Regions from separate parts of the Homo sapiens genome. Here region 1 is linked to region 2. The links come from fine-mapping of genetic effects on gene expression. A gene starts in region 2. The other region holds a variant in brackets. All regions are shown on one strand. Distances are from middle to middle.

The links. PIP is the estimated chance that this variant, and not a neighbour inherited with it, causes the effect. A credible set is the group of variants that fine-mapping cannot tell apart.
Region 1: its variant is the best candidate, but not a certain one, in a credible set for the expression of WDR82 in fibroblasts (GTEx, PIP 0.82).

What each region holds. Positions count from the first base shown.
Region 1 is chr3:52,252,022-52,260,348 of GRCh38, reverse strand. WDR82 (WD repeat domain 82) reads left to right here. Exons shown (of 9, transcript NM_025222.4): 6 at 477-632; 7 at 1,083-1,152; 8 at 1,671-1,813; 9 at 2,830-5,915. The coding sequence ends at 2,859. Among named protein-coding and RNA genes, the nearest start is that of PPM1M, 10 kb to the right of the region's middle. RefSeq lists an enhancer at 6,599-6,918. The variant C/G (reference allele first, on the strand shown) is at 4,656.
Region 2 is chr3:52,274,106-52,282,432 of GRCh38, reverse strand. WDR82 (WD repeat domain 82) reads left to right here and starts at 3,784. Exons shown (of 9, transcript NM_025222.4): 1 at 3,784-4,232. The coding sequence starts at 4,072. It overlaps LOC107986086 (a long non-coding RNA gene), which reads left to right. Exons shown (of 3, transcript XR_001740699.2): 3 at 1-115. RefSeq lists enhancers at 3,161-3,792, 4,262-4,361, 4,772-4,851, 4,872-4,921, 4,425-5,057 and silencers at 3,522-3,811, 3,992-4,071.

The DNA.
Region 1 (8,327 bases), 22 kb after region 2:
TTTGTTTTGTTTTGTTTTTGAGACAGAGTTTTGCTCTTATTGCCCAGGCTGGAGTGCAGTGGTGTAATCTCAGCTCACTGCAACCTCTGCCTCCCAGGTTCAAGTGATTCTCCTGCCTCAGCCTCCCAAGTAGCTGGGATTACACGTGTCCGCCACCACGCCTGGCTAATTTTTTGTATTTAGTAGAGATGGGTTTCACCATGTTGGTCAGGCTGGTCTCAAACTCCTCACCTCTGGTGATCCACCCACCTCGGCCTCCCAAAGTGCTGGGATTACAGGCGTGAGCCACCGCGCCCGGCCCTGTAAGAGCCTTTTCTACAAAAGGAAAAATGTGGTAGATATTAGAGAGTGGCAGAGAAGTAGCTCATTCTCTGCTTTCCTTAGTCAAAAAGTAATCTAAAGGAATAGGATGGGAATTGGCTCTAGCAGAAGAAATTATTAATATGCCTGGGGCTACTGTTTTTTATCTTTTGCAGGGGCCATTTGCTACCTTTAAGATGCAGTATGATCGAACTTGTGAGTGGACAGGACTTAAATTCAGCAATGATGGCAAGCTCATCCTCATTTCCACCAACGGCAGCTTCATTCGTCTGATTGATGCATTCAAAGGAGTGGTGATGCACACATTTGGGGTGAGCTGACAGCCTTCAAGCATGGCTGTTTCCATGCTCATACTTCCTATGCTAAGAATTATGTTAGCTGGTTGGTGGAGACCAACAGTTACTCTTGACTTACTCATGAAGGCATGCACTTGTATTTTCTTCCTGCTCATGAACTTACCTCTCTTGGATTTCGTAGATGTTCATTTCTCACCAAGTGACCCAAGTTTGGTATTTAGATATAAAATAATTTCCTAACAATAAAGTTTTCTTGCCCCCTTGAGTATGCCTTGAATACAGAGTTGAGGGTGGGAGTGGATTGTCAACGATGGCAACCACATTTGGAAGCTTGGTGGTGTAGTACATGACAAGGAAAGGGTTTCATGGAAAGGAAGGTGATGCATGTGCTGAGTCAGTGTTTGTAGGCAGCTGTTTTTATTAATGGCTCTGTAAGAACAAAAGAACTGCTCTGTTTTGTTTTAGGGTTATGCCAACAGCAAAGCTGTCACACTGGAGGCTTCATTTACTCCAGACTCTCAGTTTATTATGATTGGTGAGTTTCCTTTTATCCCCTGTGGGGGTTATTTCTCTGGTACTATGCATTTCTTTGTTTAAATTATTAACTGAGACATTATTATCTATTTGATAGATGTTCTTAGATTTCTGTATAGCACATTATGCCAAGGACATAGTGTCTTTTAACTGCCCTGACTGGACCAAAATTTGAGTTAAACTCCACAAGCACTACCTTATTAGTAATGCTAATGTCCTGGTGTAACCCTACATTCAGTCATCTTAGTGGCTGCCTGTTGGTAGGGTAATGGTATTCGGCCCCTTTTTTAGATGAGAAAACTGAAGTTAGAACGGAAGTGACATGCCTGTGAACAAATAGCTAGGGTCAAGATAAATTTCCAAAGTGTCCTTCCTTCACTGCCTCTCCTCCCTCTCAATTTTGCCTGAGGGATGGGTCCTAAAGCTTGGCGTATCCTCAGATCTCAATCCATGTCTCATTTCCAGTTGTCTTTGTATTGCGCCTTGAGCTGTTACATTTTCCGTGAATATCCTCTTTAGGTTCAGAGGATGGCAAGATCCATGTCTGGAATGGAGAGAGCGGTATAAAAGTAGCTGTGTTGGATGGTAAACACACAGGCCCGATTACCTGTTTGCAATTCAACCCCAAGTTCATGACTTTTGCCAGTGCGTGTTCCAACATGGTATGTGAACAGTAAGAGGTATCTGCTACTCAGGGACCCTTCCCAGTTGGGGTGGTGGGTGCCTCAACAAGCACAGCAAGCTGTGTTCTACATAGGTACATTACAAGCATCCAAGTACATGTTTCTCAACTGGTGGTTTCCCTATTTCATCTCCTATTATTTGATCTCTGGCTGGGCTGGTCTTGCCTTTCATTTTTATTCTTCCTAGAGGTGATCAGGAATCATCTTTGAGTTCCAAGGAGATCATAGGCCAGTTTTTGCTCTGGACCCTAATTTTAGGTCCAAACTACCTGGGCTATGCTTGGCAATTTTTTTGCTCCTTAAAATACTCTGAACCGGCCTTTTGTGGTTTCAGTTTTCCATTCCTGTTGGTTTACGCCAAATTCCCAGAAATTTCTACAGTTGGTCATAACTCACCACTTAGAATTAACTCCAGGCCCTTATCTCTTCCTAGATAATACTAACAGAACAAAGGATCAGTGAGTCTCAGCTCCAGTTTTCCCTTGTGATCTCCTAAACCTGCCTGGGTATTCGGGGATGAGACATTTCATTACTAGCCTACCCGGAGCACATTGCCACCTTGCTTTTTTTTTTTAACCAAGAAAAAAATGTTAGAAAAAATACAGCAAAACCATCCAGTTCCTTACTTTTTACAGCCCAGGAAGGTGGGGGCCTGTTGGAGGTAACCTGGTGGATTAGCAATGAGGACAGGTTACTTATTCACCCACCTCCCAGGCAGCACTCCTTTTTTTCCCTTCCTTTAAAAAAAAGGGGGCGGGGGGTCTGCTTTGGTGGAAGGTGGACAGTGATTATTGGAGAAAAACAGAACCATTTTACTTTCACATAGAGGAAAGAGTGTTTCTGTCTCCTTAGAGCATCGGGGTTGGTTGGTTAGGAGAGAGGGCTACCAGAGCCACTGGGGTTGGGCACATTTTTGCTGTGGGGTGGGATGTGAAGAACCGTTGGCAGTGAGGAGATGCTTGGCTTTTTAAAGTTGATTTATGTTCTCCTTCTAGGCCTTTTGGTTGCCCACCATTGATGACTGACCCTGTTGCTGCTTGGCTATTTCTGTATAGTGAGGGCGGCCAGCAGGAAGAAACTCAGAGGGAACTGAGATAATAGTGGGATTGGATCATTTGACTGGGCTGGAGAACATCCTTTTACATGGCCTTCCCATGGATGTGCTGTACATCTGCTCAAAAGAAAATAATTACTTTGATGAGCGTCTTCAAAAGGACTCTTGGTGCAACAGACTCAATTGGAACTCAGCTTTTCTAACTGTCACTGCACCAAGCTCTGCTGGAGGAGTGACCAGACTCACGATTTGGTATAGTGGGGCTCTCAAGCATCTTCAATTTGAATGTACATGCTGCTGAGGAGCCGGTGAAGTCATCAGTTCCGCACATCCCTTCTACCCTCCAACTGCATGGGAAGCCAAAGTCCTGGTTTTGAAATGCTTGGGCAGCTCAGCCGCTTGCCCTCACCCTGCATGTCTTGTTACTGGGTCTCCCTGTGTACTTGTGGCATTATCCACAACCATCATGTTTCTTAGGTGCCAAACATTTACAGAAACATTTTCATATATCTTGGGGTCAGAGAAAGGGACAGATACAGAAGGACCTTGCTTGCAGGAAGCCATGCAGTTAGTTTCTGCAGTTAGTCGTGTGAGGCTAGGTGGTTGGGCAGGCCTCGGGCTGTAGGTGTTGGGTGGGAAAAAGACCCAAGGGCCTGAAAGGGAGGGAAAGGGGAGGGTAGCGGGAGGGTAGCAGGTGAGTTCCTAGGGCTGGAAGGTTTAGCAGCAGCCTGGTGCAGTGCCCTGTCATCAAGACAAACCCACGGTCCTCCTGGGTGCCTACCAAGCTTGGTTTGTACAAAAGCAAGGTGGGAGTCTATTTTTGTACATGAGATACATCACACTTACCTGTGGGCCAGTATTGTGAAGTGAGTCTGAGTTGTTTACACTGATGCCTTCCCTGCCCACCACAAATTGTGTACATAGTCTTCAGATGATACCACCCCTTTCCCCAGCTCCCAACCAAGAGCTGGTTCTAGGCCTGTGTTATATGTCATATTTAGCGTTTTTATATATGACCTTTGATTTCTGTTGTTTGTATTTTAGCACAGTGTATGCACCTTCATTTAAATACATCTGTGTGCATACAGATACGCATATATGTGTGTGCGTATGCATATATCTCTCATCTGTAGTTTCCAAGAGTTCAGCTGAAGCAGATGGAGTCCTGCAGCCCAGGAGACACCCTGCATCCCTGCTAATAGTGTTTGCCACAAGTATTAGTGAGTCTTCCTTATTAATATTTTCATTTCAGAAGACTGAAGCAAAGCTGATAGTGTTTGCTGTTTCTTTGGCAGCTAAGTGAGGGTCTTGGGATGACTTGCTGTGTTCCTCAAGCTGCACTTTGGGGCCATCTCTGCAGTATTAGCCCCCTTTTTGCTTGGTGGTACTCTGTCTGTGCCTGTGTGTGTGTGTGATAGTCACTCTTGCATGGCTTCCATGTCTGGTTTGTGGCATTTGGGGATAAGGTGCTGAAGCCAGAGCATTTGCAGTTTGTTTGAGGCCTCGTTGCCAATGATAGATCACTCCTGTTGACCTGGTATGTCTGCTTGCTTGCTGCTTTTCCTTGCTTTCTCTTGGAAGAGGAAAGGACTCTGGTCAGGCCCAGGCTGAGTGAGATGAGCTGCAGCTGGCTCATGGCCTTCTTAGAGCAGAGAGAGGAGTATGTCATTTTACTAAGTTCCTAAACAAACATTTATGCAGGCAACACTCCTTGCAGATCCAGAAACTGAGGCACAATAGGGTTATGACTTGCTCAAGAATATGTAG[C/G]TGCTAGGGGGTAAATCAAGGCATCACAATTTCTGTTCAGCGGGCAGGAATAGGCTGTGAATTGCTAGCACTTTTTTTTTTTAAGCAATTACTTTTTGACTTGTTCCTCTGAAAGTGCAAGAGGCGTACACCTTTCCCAAATGTAGACTAGAATCTGCAGGATGCCACCCACTGTATAGTTCTGCTTTCCCAGAGAGGAAGAACTTTTAGAAACCAAATGATCTTAATTGTTATTGCCCACCCCTGGCTTTTCCGGGTAGAAAATTCACAGTAGGAATGATTGTTAAGAGAGAGTGCTTGGAACCATGGGTTAACAGGAAAGGCTACCTAACTTCACATATCTGCAACCAGAGCAGCCACCAAGCATTACTTAGCAGCAGGAAAATGATTGTATTTGAGTTCCTGTGTGTCCAAAACTGAGCACCATGTTCTTTGAAAACATGCCACCTCAAGGCTGGGCGCGGTGGCTCACACCTGTAATCCCAGCACTTTGGGAGGCCGAGGCGGGCGGATCACCGGAGGTCGGGAGTTTGAGACCAGCCTGACCAACATGGAGAAACCCCATCTCTACTAAAAATACAAAATTAGCCGGGCGTGGTGGCATGCGCCTATAATCTCAGCTACTTGGGAGGCTGAGGCAGGAGAATTGCTTGAACCCAGGAGGCGGAGGTTGCGGTGAGTTGAGATCGTGCCATTGCACTCCGGCCTGGGCAACAACAGCAAAACTCCGTCTCAAAAAAAAAAAAAAAAAAATGCCACCTCACAGTCTCTATCGTTGGGCCCTGTGGTTGCAAAGCTGCCTCCTGAATTAAGAAGGAAAGGGAAAAGATATAGCTGGAAGCGAGTGGAAGAGATGCTGAGGGCTGGGGCTGCACAGACGTGCTCAGCAGGGCTACAGGTGCTCAAGCCCTATTGGGGATGGGTGGGGAGTGGGGCAGCGGCGTTTGCCACCTTAAGAATTGGGGCCAAAGCCACTGATGTTTATTTGACAGTGACACTGCACTGGGTACTTAAAGAAATTATTTCCCGTTGTAATTATAATTACTGCTTATTAAGGAAAATATGGGAATTTTAGAAAGAATCAAGTTTGCCACCCAAATGCTACCACTGTTAATCTTTTGGTGTTAAATGTTCCCCCTAGACATTTCTGTGCATAGATTTTTGGTGTGTTTACATAGTCGTTATTCTGTATATACAATTTTATGTCCCTTTTGTACTTAACGTATAAACATTTTTTCCATGTTACAGTCTTAAACAGAATTTTATGGCTGCAGCCTCTTCGATTTGAGTTTCTGTAGCATGGTTTGCCTGGTTCCCAGAGCTGGAGGGAGGCTTGGGTTGTCTCCTGTTAGTTCTGGCTCACACTGCAGCTTGCTGTAATGCTGTGTAGACGGATTGCTGGGCTCCCTGGGACTGCCTCTGACTGCCCCTTGGTAACTAAGATTTATGGGCTGGTGGGAGGAACCCCTAGAACCAGCCTTCAACCCCAGGCTGTAATAGCCATAGAGCCAGCAATGACTGACGGGGCAAGGCAAGCCTGAGCCAGCCTGAATCTTCGGAGACTGTCTGGCACTTACCTCAGGCTGCCTTGCATCCTCTACTGTTTACTCAACCCTTCACCAGATTGACAACCTCTAGTTGGAATATGTTTTGTCCTGCTAGACCCTGGTTTCAGGAAGGCAAGAATACTGGAGTCTCTCTGAGGCCCCAGCACCCAGTCTGGCAGAAGGCAATTGCTTTGGTAACCCATTTGCCTGGAGGCTGCTGCTCTAGCTCAGCATTCTCAGAGCTGTAGAACCTGCTTCCTGCTCTTGCCTCGCCCTCTCTGGACCAGAGAAGAAAACCTTGGGCCTGCCACATTTTCACATTGCTCATGGGACTCTGCAACAGTGGCGGAGGGAACATCCTAGCTTGTGTGTGACAGGCCATGCACAGGCTCTTCTGACACTACGTACGTAGGAAGAGACCCCCTCCTGGCCTGGTGGGAGGACTGCTGCCGTGTTCAGCTCTGCTGGGAGACATGAACAAGTAGGTAAGCATGGCTGCCCTTAGAGCAGCCACTCTGGTCTCTGTCCTGCTCGCAACTGAAAGACCTACTTCACCCACCCCCCAGGCTTCATTCAGCCTTGTGACGTGAGGAACAACAGCAGGCATGGTAGCAAGCTAGGCAAGCAGGCTGTGGGGGCGAGCTGGCTCAGCAGTTGATGTGGGTAAGAGAAGCAGGCACAGGATGCTGCCCACCCTTTTTTTTTTTTTTGCTCAGGCGGAGTGGTGAGGTAGTGGAGGCTGTGGTGAGGAAAGAGGAAGTGACACTCCTACAGGCTGGTAGGACAGCACTCAAGCTGCCTGGCTAGAGGAGTCCTAGCAAGACTACCATAGGGCCTAGCTGTGGACAGGTTCAACCCTGAAGTCCTGCACTGTGGAATATAGCAGTGGGAAATATCTGATGCAGTTTTTCCAGTCTTCCCTGGAGAATGTGTAGGAAATGAAATCTAGAGTTAATGGGTAGGAAAGGGGGTCTGAGGCTGGGTGCAGTGGCTCACGCCTGTAATCCCAGCACTTTGGGAGACCGAGGTGGGTGGATCACCTGAGGTCAGGAGTTTGAGACCAGGCTGGCCAACATGATGAAACCCCATCTCTACTAAAAATATTGGGTGTGGTGGTGTGTGCCTGTAATTCCAACTGTTCAGGAGGCTGAGGCAGGAGAATCACTTGAACCCAGGAGGCTAGAGGTTGCAGTGAGCTGAGATGGCACCATTACACTCCAGCCTGGGCGACAAGAGTGAAGCTCCATCTCAAAAAAAAAAAAAAAAAAGCCGGGGTGGGGTGGGTTCTGAGAGCCTCTCAGTTGAGTTAATTATACAGGTTTTACCATTGGCTCTGCGACCTGTTGGATATTCTTCTTGGCTGCAATTTTGGGCTGTCAGTTGCCTGGTGAGAGAATTCACCTAAATTATAAAGTAGGAGTAAATCAGAGAAGGGTCAAGTAAAGCTGAGGTCATGAAGGTGGTTTGCCTTGTAATTCAATAGATACTTCCTGAGCACTTGAGCTTTGGTACGTTCTAGTTGACAGCATGGCTGTTTTTGTTTTGTTTTGTTTTTGAGACAGTTTTGCTCTTATTGCCCAGGCTGGAGTACAACGGTGCGATCTTGGCTCACTGCAACCTCCGCCTCCCGGGTTCAAGCGATTCTCCTGCCTCAGCCTCCCGAGTAGCTGGGATTACAGGCATGTGCCACCACACCTGGCTAATTTTGTATTTTTAGTAGAGACAGGGTTTCAACATGTTGGTCAGGCTGGTCTCAAACTCCGGACCTCAGGTGATCTGCCTGCTCAGCCTCCCAAAGTGCTGGATGACACACCTGAGCCACCAGGCCTGGCCCCATTTTTTTGTTTGTTTTGTTTTGTTTTGAGACAGAGTCTCACTGTGTTGTCCAGGCTGGAGTGGAGTGGCACAATCTCCCCTCACTGCAACCTCCACCTCCTGGGTTCAGGTGATCCTCCCACCTCAGCCTTCCAAGTAGCTGGGACCACAGGCATATATCACCATGCCCTACTAATTTTTTGTATTTTTGATAGAGATGGGGTTTCACCATGTTGTTCAGGATGGTCTCAAACTCCCGAGCTCAAGTGATCTACCTGCTTCAGCCTCCCAAAGTCCTGGGATTACAGGC
Region 2 (8,327 bases):
CCATAAATGCACCTAAGGAAAATCCACCAAGGCCCTCAGTCCTCTCGCTGGGGTGCCCCGCTGCACTCTTCTGCAGCGTTCTTTCTTTCTAAGAAATTTTCCTTTTTCAAACCTATACTGTTGTCAGTAAATTTTTTGCCAACCTGTGAGGCGACCACTTCCTGGTGCTGGGGCTCAGACACCTCACCAGGCATTTTGTGTTCTAGTGTTCTGCGTTTCCTCTTTGGCAATTAAGCTCACACACACACACACTCAACTGTCCCAAAGAAGAGAGTCACCTGATTCTAGTTATTCCGAGGGCTGTGTAAGCACTGATACACACACACACTGTCACACTTACACACATGCAACTGTCCCAAAGAAGAGAGTCACCTGATTCTAGTTATTCCAAGGGTTGAGTAAGACGTTAGTCAATCTCTAGGGAAGCCCTGCTGCTGGGCACTGGAGCTCAGAAATTTATCTCAAAGAATTAGAATTCATAAGGAGCTCTGTGTTTTGGAAAGAGGACACATTGTTTAGGACAGTTTCCATTCCAATTGTGCAGCATGAAATAGAAAAATTTAATAAGTGGGCCAATCAAGTATCTGGAATCCTTTGGATAAATTCATTTATTCAATTAATCCATACTGAGCTCTGGCTGGGCTCTGGACAAAATGGGAAGCAAAATTACTTTACAGCCATATAATAGAATAGTTTGTAGCCATTCAAAATGATTGTATCGATATTTATTGACCTGGAATATGTTCATAGTATGGGTAAACTTACAAACAATATATTATGAACCCAATAAAAATATATTTCAGGGATTGGCTGGGTGTGGTGGCTCATGCCTGTAATCCCAGCACTTTGGGATGGTGAGGCAGGCAGATCACCTGAGGTCAGCAGTTCAAGACCAGCCAGGCCAACATGATAAAACCTCGTCTGTACTAAAAATACAAAATTAGCTGGGCGTGGTGGCGGGCATCTATAGGAGGCTGAGGCAGGAGAATCACTTGAACCCAGGACATGGAGGTTACAGTGAGCTGAGAGCACGCCACTGCACTCCAGTCTGGGTGACAGAGCAGGAAAAAAAAAAAAAAAAAAAAAAAAAAAATATATATATATATATATATGTATATGAAAAAATCGGAAAGGTTCTACATCAAAATGGTAAATTTCGTGTTATATATATTTCACTATAATAAAAGATTGTAACAGTGGCTATCTCTGGATGCTGTTTTTATTATTTGTATTTTTTAGTTTTTTTGCAATGAATATGTGACAAGTAAAAGAATGACTACAAATAAAAGGAAACATAAAAAATTAAGTCTGATGCTCTTTTAAAGCCCATCTGATTCACTCTTGACTGCAGCTTTCTCTCCATCCACCCATCCACTGGAGCCGGCTTTCTGTGTCACTTTTTAAAGTCCATTTTTTTTTTTTTTTTGAGACGGAGTCTTGCTCTAATGCCCAGTGCAGTGGTGTGATCTCGGCTCACTACAACCTCTGCCTCCCGGATTCAAGCGATTCTCCTGCCTCAGCCTCCCAAGTAGCTGGGATTACAGGTGCCCGCCACTGTGCCCAGCTAATTTTTGTATTTTTAATAGAGACAGGGTTTCACCATTTTGGCCAGGCTGGTTTTGAACTCCCGACCTTGTGATCTACCCACCTCGGCCTCCCAAAGTGCCACCGCACCTGGCCTAAAGTCCATCCTTTAAGGCAACCATACTGTTGGGCTGGAAGCCAGGAGAGCCCCACTATAATAGGGCAGGGAGCCAGGCTAGGAATTGGAAACAGTAAGAATGCGAAACAGGATGAGGATTTGAAGACCCTCTTAAAAATGGGGGAAAAAAAAAAAGACTGCATTCCAAAAATAATGCAGAAAGTCAAGTCTTGGGAGGAAGGTTTGGTCTTAACGGTGAAATCTGGAAAAGGTATAGGAAGTACAATACTTGAAAAATACCCTGCAAAGATTTATTTTGGCTGGCAACATTCAGTAGATTACAGCTGTTTCTGTGGTTATTTTTGTAGATTAACATGGACCAAAATATGGCATCATCTTACTGGGTGTGTTCACTTCCCGACAGTTCTAGAACATGGTACTCGATCTGTCCTTGTTGCCTTCTAAACTATTCGAAGCAGACGCTGTATCAGACTTTCTAGCTTCTGAAATAAAGGCACAGGAATTACAGGGAAGCAGAGCAAGTGATCTGGGACGTGGAGGGTTTTTCTTCCATTGTGTGCAGTTTGGAAAGTTGCCATCTATTCAGGTTTCACTCAAACCGGCTTTTTCCAGACCCCAGAACAAATTGTAGCCAGAAGCTCTGCTCTTTGTCAGGAGGCAATTATACCCCAGACTTAGCCAGGAACTTGCCTCTTCCCTTAGAGAACAACTTCTCTTTATGTATAAGGATCCTGGCTCTCCTTTTACCCAGGGGGTTGGGATACAGCCTCTAGTTCTTTCTAGAAAGACCCCAACTGTCCCAGGGTTTCCATTTTGTTTTTTACCATTGCACAGGTCTCTGGATAATAACCTTCCTAATAGCGACTGAAATGTCTCACAGCCTTTCCTCGTTTTTGTTTCTCTTTAGCTAAAGAAAGCAAAAATAAATAATCCCCATCTTCATTGTTGGAAACCCCAGGCAATTAACCTTTTGAGGAGCTTCACACAAGATACAGATCTGTGAAGCCACATAGGTTGGCATTGAGTTTAACCCCTTGCCCAGAAAGTTAAGGTTAGGAAGCTTGGTTCCTATTTTCTGTTCAAATACTGCTTTCCTTTGTTAGAGATAAACTTTCTTTTAAGGCAAATAATCACTTATATGATAGAACCTTTAAAATAATCCTGTTGACTACAAACAGGATAGTGCAACTCTTCCAAATCTTGAATGTGGTGGTGACTGCATGACTGTGTATGGGTGTCAGAACATAAAACTAGCCACTAAAAAGGCTAATTTTTGGGGGGAAACCGTCTGCTCTGTCGCCCAGCCTGGAATGCAGTGGCACGATTTCGGCGCACTGCAGCCTCCGCCTTTCTCAATTCTCGTGCCTCAGCCGCGCCATCATGCCCGGCTAATTTTTTGTATTTTAGTAGAGGTGGGGTTTTGTCATGTTGGCCAGGCTGGTCTCAACTCCTGAGCTCAAGCGATCATCCCGCCTCGGCCTCCCAAAGTGGTGGGTTTAAAGGCGTGAGCCACCGCGCCCGGCCTAAAAAGGCTGATTTTTACTGTACCTAAAGTCTACCTCGATTAAGAAAACGAGGCCGGGTGCGGGTGAGGTCAGGAGTTCGAGACCAGCCTGGCCAACATGGTGAACCCCCGTCTCTACCAAAAATACAAAATTAGCTGGGCGTGGTGGCGCGCGCCTGAGCGAGAGACTCCATCTCCAAAAAAAAAAAAAAAAGTAAAGAGGTCGAAGCTGTCTAAGCGGACGCTGCGGTGGACTAGCGGTCAAGCTTGCCTGCGAGCGGCTCACCTGAGTCACCCCCAAAACCGGCCTCCAGCAGCATACCCGACCCTGCAGTACCCCCTCCCACGCAGCCTGCGATCGGGACGCCTGCAGGAGGCGCCAGAGTCTTCGCGGGGGTTGCAATCCCGCGCAAGGGCCCCCGGCTCCCAAGGCATCCGCAACCTTCCGATCCCCCGGGAAGGCCCTGCACGTCTCGGCCGCTCCCTGCCAGCAGCCCGCCCCGCCACTACACTCCGCCGCGGCCGCGCTGACGTCACCACCCCGCCTCCCCGCCTTGCTCCGCCGTTCCCGCCCCGCCCCCTTTCCCGGCGTGCGCCGCGGCTGAGGCTCCTCGCCCTCAGCTTCTGCCTGTCGCCCCAAAATGGCGGACACAATGAGCCGGCGACGCGCCGGTTGTCCGTGAGGTGGCTGTGAGGACGAACGGTCGGCGAGGCTCCACAGTCCAGGCAGAAGACCCTCGACCAAGCAGGAAGAAGAGGAGGAGGCGGCCCAACTGTTGGCCGACTTCCCGCTAGCCGCCGGCGCGGCGCCCGCCCCGCCTGGGTTGGCCCCTCGGCAGCCCGCCCGCTCGCCGCCGGGCCCCGCCCCGGCCCTGCGCCGCCGCTGCCTTCCCCAGCCGCCGCCATGAAGCTGACCGACAGCGTGTTGCGGAGCTTCCGCGTCGCTAAGGTGTTCCGCGAAAACTCGGACAAGATTAACTGCTTCGATTTCAGCCCCAACGGCGAGACGGTCATCTCGAGTAGCGACGACGACTCCATCGTGCTCTATGACTGCCAGGAGGGCAAGTGAGTGCGGCGGAGGCCCTGGGCCCGAGTCTCAGTGCCTCCCTCCGGTGGCCCAGCACAGGTCCCTCGGCCTGCCCTCCGTCCCGACTTCAGCCCCCAGCCTATTTTGCACGCGTTCCTGCCAGGGCCGCCTCCACCCCGCAGCCGTCCAGGAGACCTTTTATTTTTTTCTTCTTAAAAAAAAAAGATAACGATAGTCATAATTTTATAATATTATTTGTATGTCTTCGGTCTCCTTTGAGCGCTATGCATCACTTGCCAAACCCCACCTTGACCTTGACCTTTAAACGCCCGGTCCGCCCACCCTGGGCCCACCAGGTAGCGTTTTCAGCTCCTCAGGCTGTCAAAGGTGCTGGTCTGCTCCGGCCTCGACGCAGGACTGCAGGGGCTGCTTTTCTGCCTCCTTCGGCAGCGTCAGCTCTCTCTTGTGCTCTCTCCACTGTGACCTCGATTCCGCCCTGGCACTCCGCCCATCCCCTGCCCCTCAGCTTCCCGCGGCCTTTCTGCCGTCAGACCGCGTGGGTTGCACTTCTTAGCTGTCAGGATTTATTTGTTGTGCCCCTTTGAGCCCCCTTGCTTTTTCTTCCTGCTCCTAGCCTTTCTCTTACTCATTCAGACTTGGTGCCCACGTTCATAAGTGAACTTTTCAGCAACATCTAAAACTTCCTTTTTGCCACACACAAACGAACTTGGTCGTCCCATCCTGACCTGAATGTGAGCTTCCGTTAAAACAAAGCAAGCATCGTAGAACAATTTCAGGTTTCCTTTCATACTTTTTTTTTTCTATTACACTTTTTGGTCCACTTTGAATTCCAATTCTGATCATGAAACTTTTATGTTGCCACAAGTCATCTGGAGACCCACCATACCTGCATCTTTTCGCAAAATCTAAGCACAGCACTTTGCCTTTTTCCCTGGGGGTCCTTGTCAGCCCTCCTCACCGCACGCCTGTGGACTTGCAGCTCCTTGGAGCCAAAAACTAGTTTAGATTAAATTCGTTTTACCCTTAGCCACCTTCCCCAAGAAGGCTTGCTGATGTTTGGTTTAATTCGGTGGACCCTGGTTTTTTCAGACTTGATTTTGTCACCTAGTAACAGATATTATTATTATTATTATTATTATTATTATTATTATTTGAGATCTTGGGTTTTTCTCCACCTTCTCCAGCTGTTCCTTTTTCCTTTTTTTTTTTTTAGACTGGTGTCCTTCTTTTGGAACATATCTCTTCATTTGTGAATTTGATTATCTGAAGTAATGCTAGTTTGGACTGAGCTATAATGGTATCCCCCCAGTTTTTTTCCCCACTGGGGCTGTGAGAAAGTATTATGTAACCGGCTCTGGATCTGCCTGCAGTTTGTGGCAGAGTGGTCTGCAGTGGTGGTCTTAAGGAAGAGGGAATTGTTAGCTGGACAAATAGTTATTTGAGTCAGTGTTACTCATTGAGTAGATGGATTTCTGTCCTGGTCTGGTCACTTGAATCAGTTTAGAAGACGAAGTAACATTTAAAGGTGTGGTAGTAGGGTCAGCATTGTGGGGTCCTGGAGGAGTAATTTGAAGCTGGCTTGCATGAAATGTATAGTGCTTATGCACAGATTAGAACCTCTTCCCAGAACCTGAGGGTGGAGATGTATATCCTCATTTAAAGGAAATGAAGGTTGTTATAGCATTTCTTTGCAGTTTGTCCCCAAATTTGGCGTAATTTTGATTTGGGAAGGATGACCTTGACATGAAGTCCTGTCTTTCTTTTTTTTGTTTTTTTTTTTCGGGTGGGGGACGGAGTCTCTCTCCGTCGCCCAGGCTGGAGTGTAGTGGCGCGATCTTGGCTCACTGCAACCTCTGCCTCCCGGGTTCAAGCGATTCTCCTGCCTCACCCTCACAAATAGCTGGGATTACAGGCGCCTGCCACCATACCCTAACTTTTGTATTTTTAGTAGAGATGGGGTTTCACCATGTTGACCAGACTGGTCTTGAACTCCTGACCTCAAGTGATCCACCCGCCTTGGCCTTCCAAAGTGCTAGGATTATAGGCATGAGCTGCTGTGCCTGGCCAAATCCTGTCTTGTTAAAAGTAAAATGCTAGTTTTGTGACATAAGGCAGTTTATTTACTCGTAGCATTTTTACATAATTAGAAACTAACAAAGTTACAGTGTTTCAAAGAACTCCCATATGATTCAATAACTGGTTACATTTTCTGCATTTGCTTCATGACTGTAGGTAAATATTTATATGTACTGTGTGCCTCCCCCCACCTTTAGAGTTGGAGGTATCAAGCCCCTTTATCCCTAAACACTTCAACATGGATTTTCTTTCTTTTTTGAGATGGAGTCTCGCTCAGTCGCCCAGGCTGGAGTGCAGTGGCGTGATCTTGGCTCACTGCAACCTCCGGCTCCTGGGTTCAAGCGATTCTCCTGCCTCAGCCTCCTGAGTAGCTGGGATTACAGGTGCATGCCACCATGCCTGGCTAATTTTTGTATCTTTAGTAGAGGCAGGGTTTCACCATGTTGGTCAGGCTGGTCTTGAACTCCTGATCTCGTGATCTACCCGCCTCAGCCTCCCAAAGTGCTGGGATTCCAGGCATGAGCCACTGCGCCCGGCTCAACGTGGATTTTCTAAGCACAAAGACATTCTTATGTAACCAGAGCACAGTTATCCAAATTAGGAAATTTAGTACTGATACAATACTACAGGGCATGCTCTTGAGTTTTCTCTGATCAATTAATTGTAACCTTGTTTCATTATCTGTGGTGAAGGAGTGGCCTGGTAGTTAGGAGGGAACTGGGTACTAGTTTGGCCTGTGACTAGGTATGTGACATTGGTCAGATTACTTCTTTGGGTATTAGACAACCTCTTTAGTTTCCATTCTAGGCAATAATATGATGAAAAATTTTGTCACTAGTATAGGTCAAACCGACCTCAGAAGAAAAGAAGTATTTCCTTGGGAAGGCATGGTATTGTATCTTTTATTTATTTATTTTTTTGATAGGGACTTTCGCTCTTGTTGCCCAGGCTGGAGTGCAGTGGCTCCATCTCGGCTCACTGCAACCTCCGCCTCCCGAGTTCAAGCGATTCTCCTGCCTCAGCCTCCTGAGTAGCTGGGATTACAGGCATGCGCCACCACACCTGGCTAATTTTGTATTTTTAGTAGATGCGGGATTTCTCCATGTTGGTCAGGCTGGTCTCGAATTCCCGACCTCAGGTGATCCGCCGCCTCGGCCTCCCAAAGTGCTGGGATTGCAGGCATGAGCCACTGCGCCCGGCCTTTCTTTTTGTTTGTTTGTTTGTTTTGTTTTGTTTTGTTTTTGAGACTGCCTCACTCTTTCCTAGGCTGGAGTGCAGTGGCGTAATCTTGGCTCACTGCTGCAACCTCGCTGCTGGATTCAAGCGATTCTCGTGCCTCAGCCTCCCGAGTAGCTGGGATTACAGGCACCCATCAGTGTGCCTGCTAATTTTTGTATTTTTAGTAGAAATGGGGTTTCACAATGTTGGCCATGTTGGTCTCAACATCTTACCTCAAGTGATCTGCCCACCTCGGTCTCCTCGGCCTCCCAGAGTGCTGGGATTACATATGTGAGCCTCCGCACCCGGCCCTGTTTTTTTGTTTTGTTTTGTTTTGTTTTTTTGTTTGTTTGTTGTTAAGACAAAGGTCTTCCCCTGTTGCTCAGGCTGGAGTGCAATAGCATGCTTATAGTTCACTAAAGCCTTCATCTTCTGGGCTCAAGTGATCTTCCCACCTCAATCTCCAAAGTAGTTGGGCCTACAAGCACTCGCCAACTTACTTGGCTATTTTTATTTTTAGTGGAGACAAGTTCTCACCAGGTTGCCCAGGCTGGTCTCAAACTCCTGAACTCAAGCGATCCTCTCACCTAGGCCTCCCAAAGTGCTGGGATTACAGGTGTTAGCTACTGTGACCGGCCGAAGGCATAGTATCTTTATTAGATGACCCTAGTGTTAGAATTTGGGAGTTTGAAAATGGCTAAAGCAAGATTTTGTGTGCTTAGTATTTTCCAGTTTACTGGTCATTTAAATTTTCTTTACAATGGAGTTCGCCCATTGAGTGATATTTCAATTTGGAAGAGTATAAAGGATATTGTTTG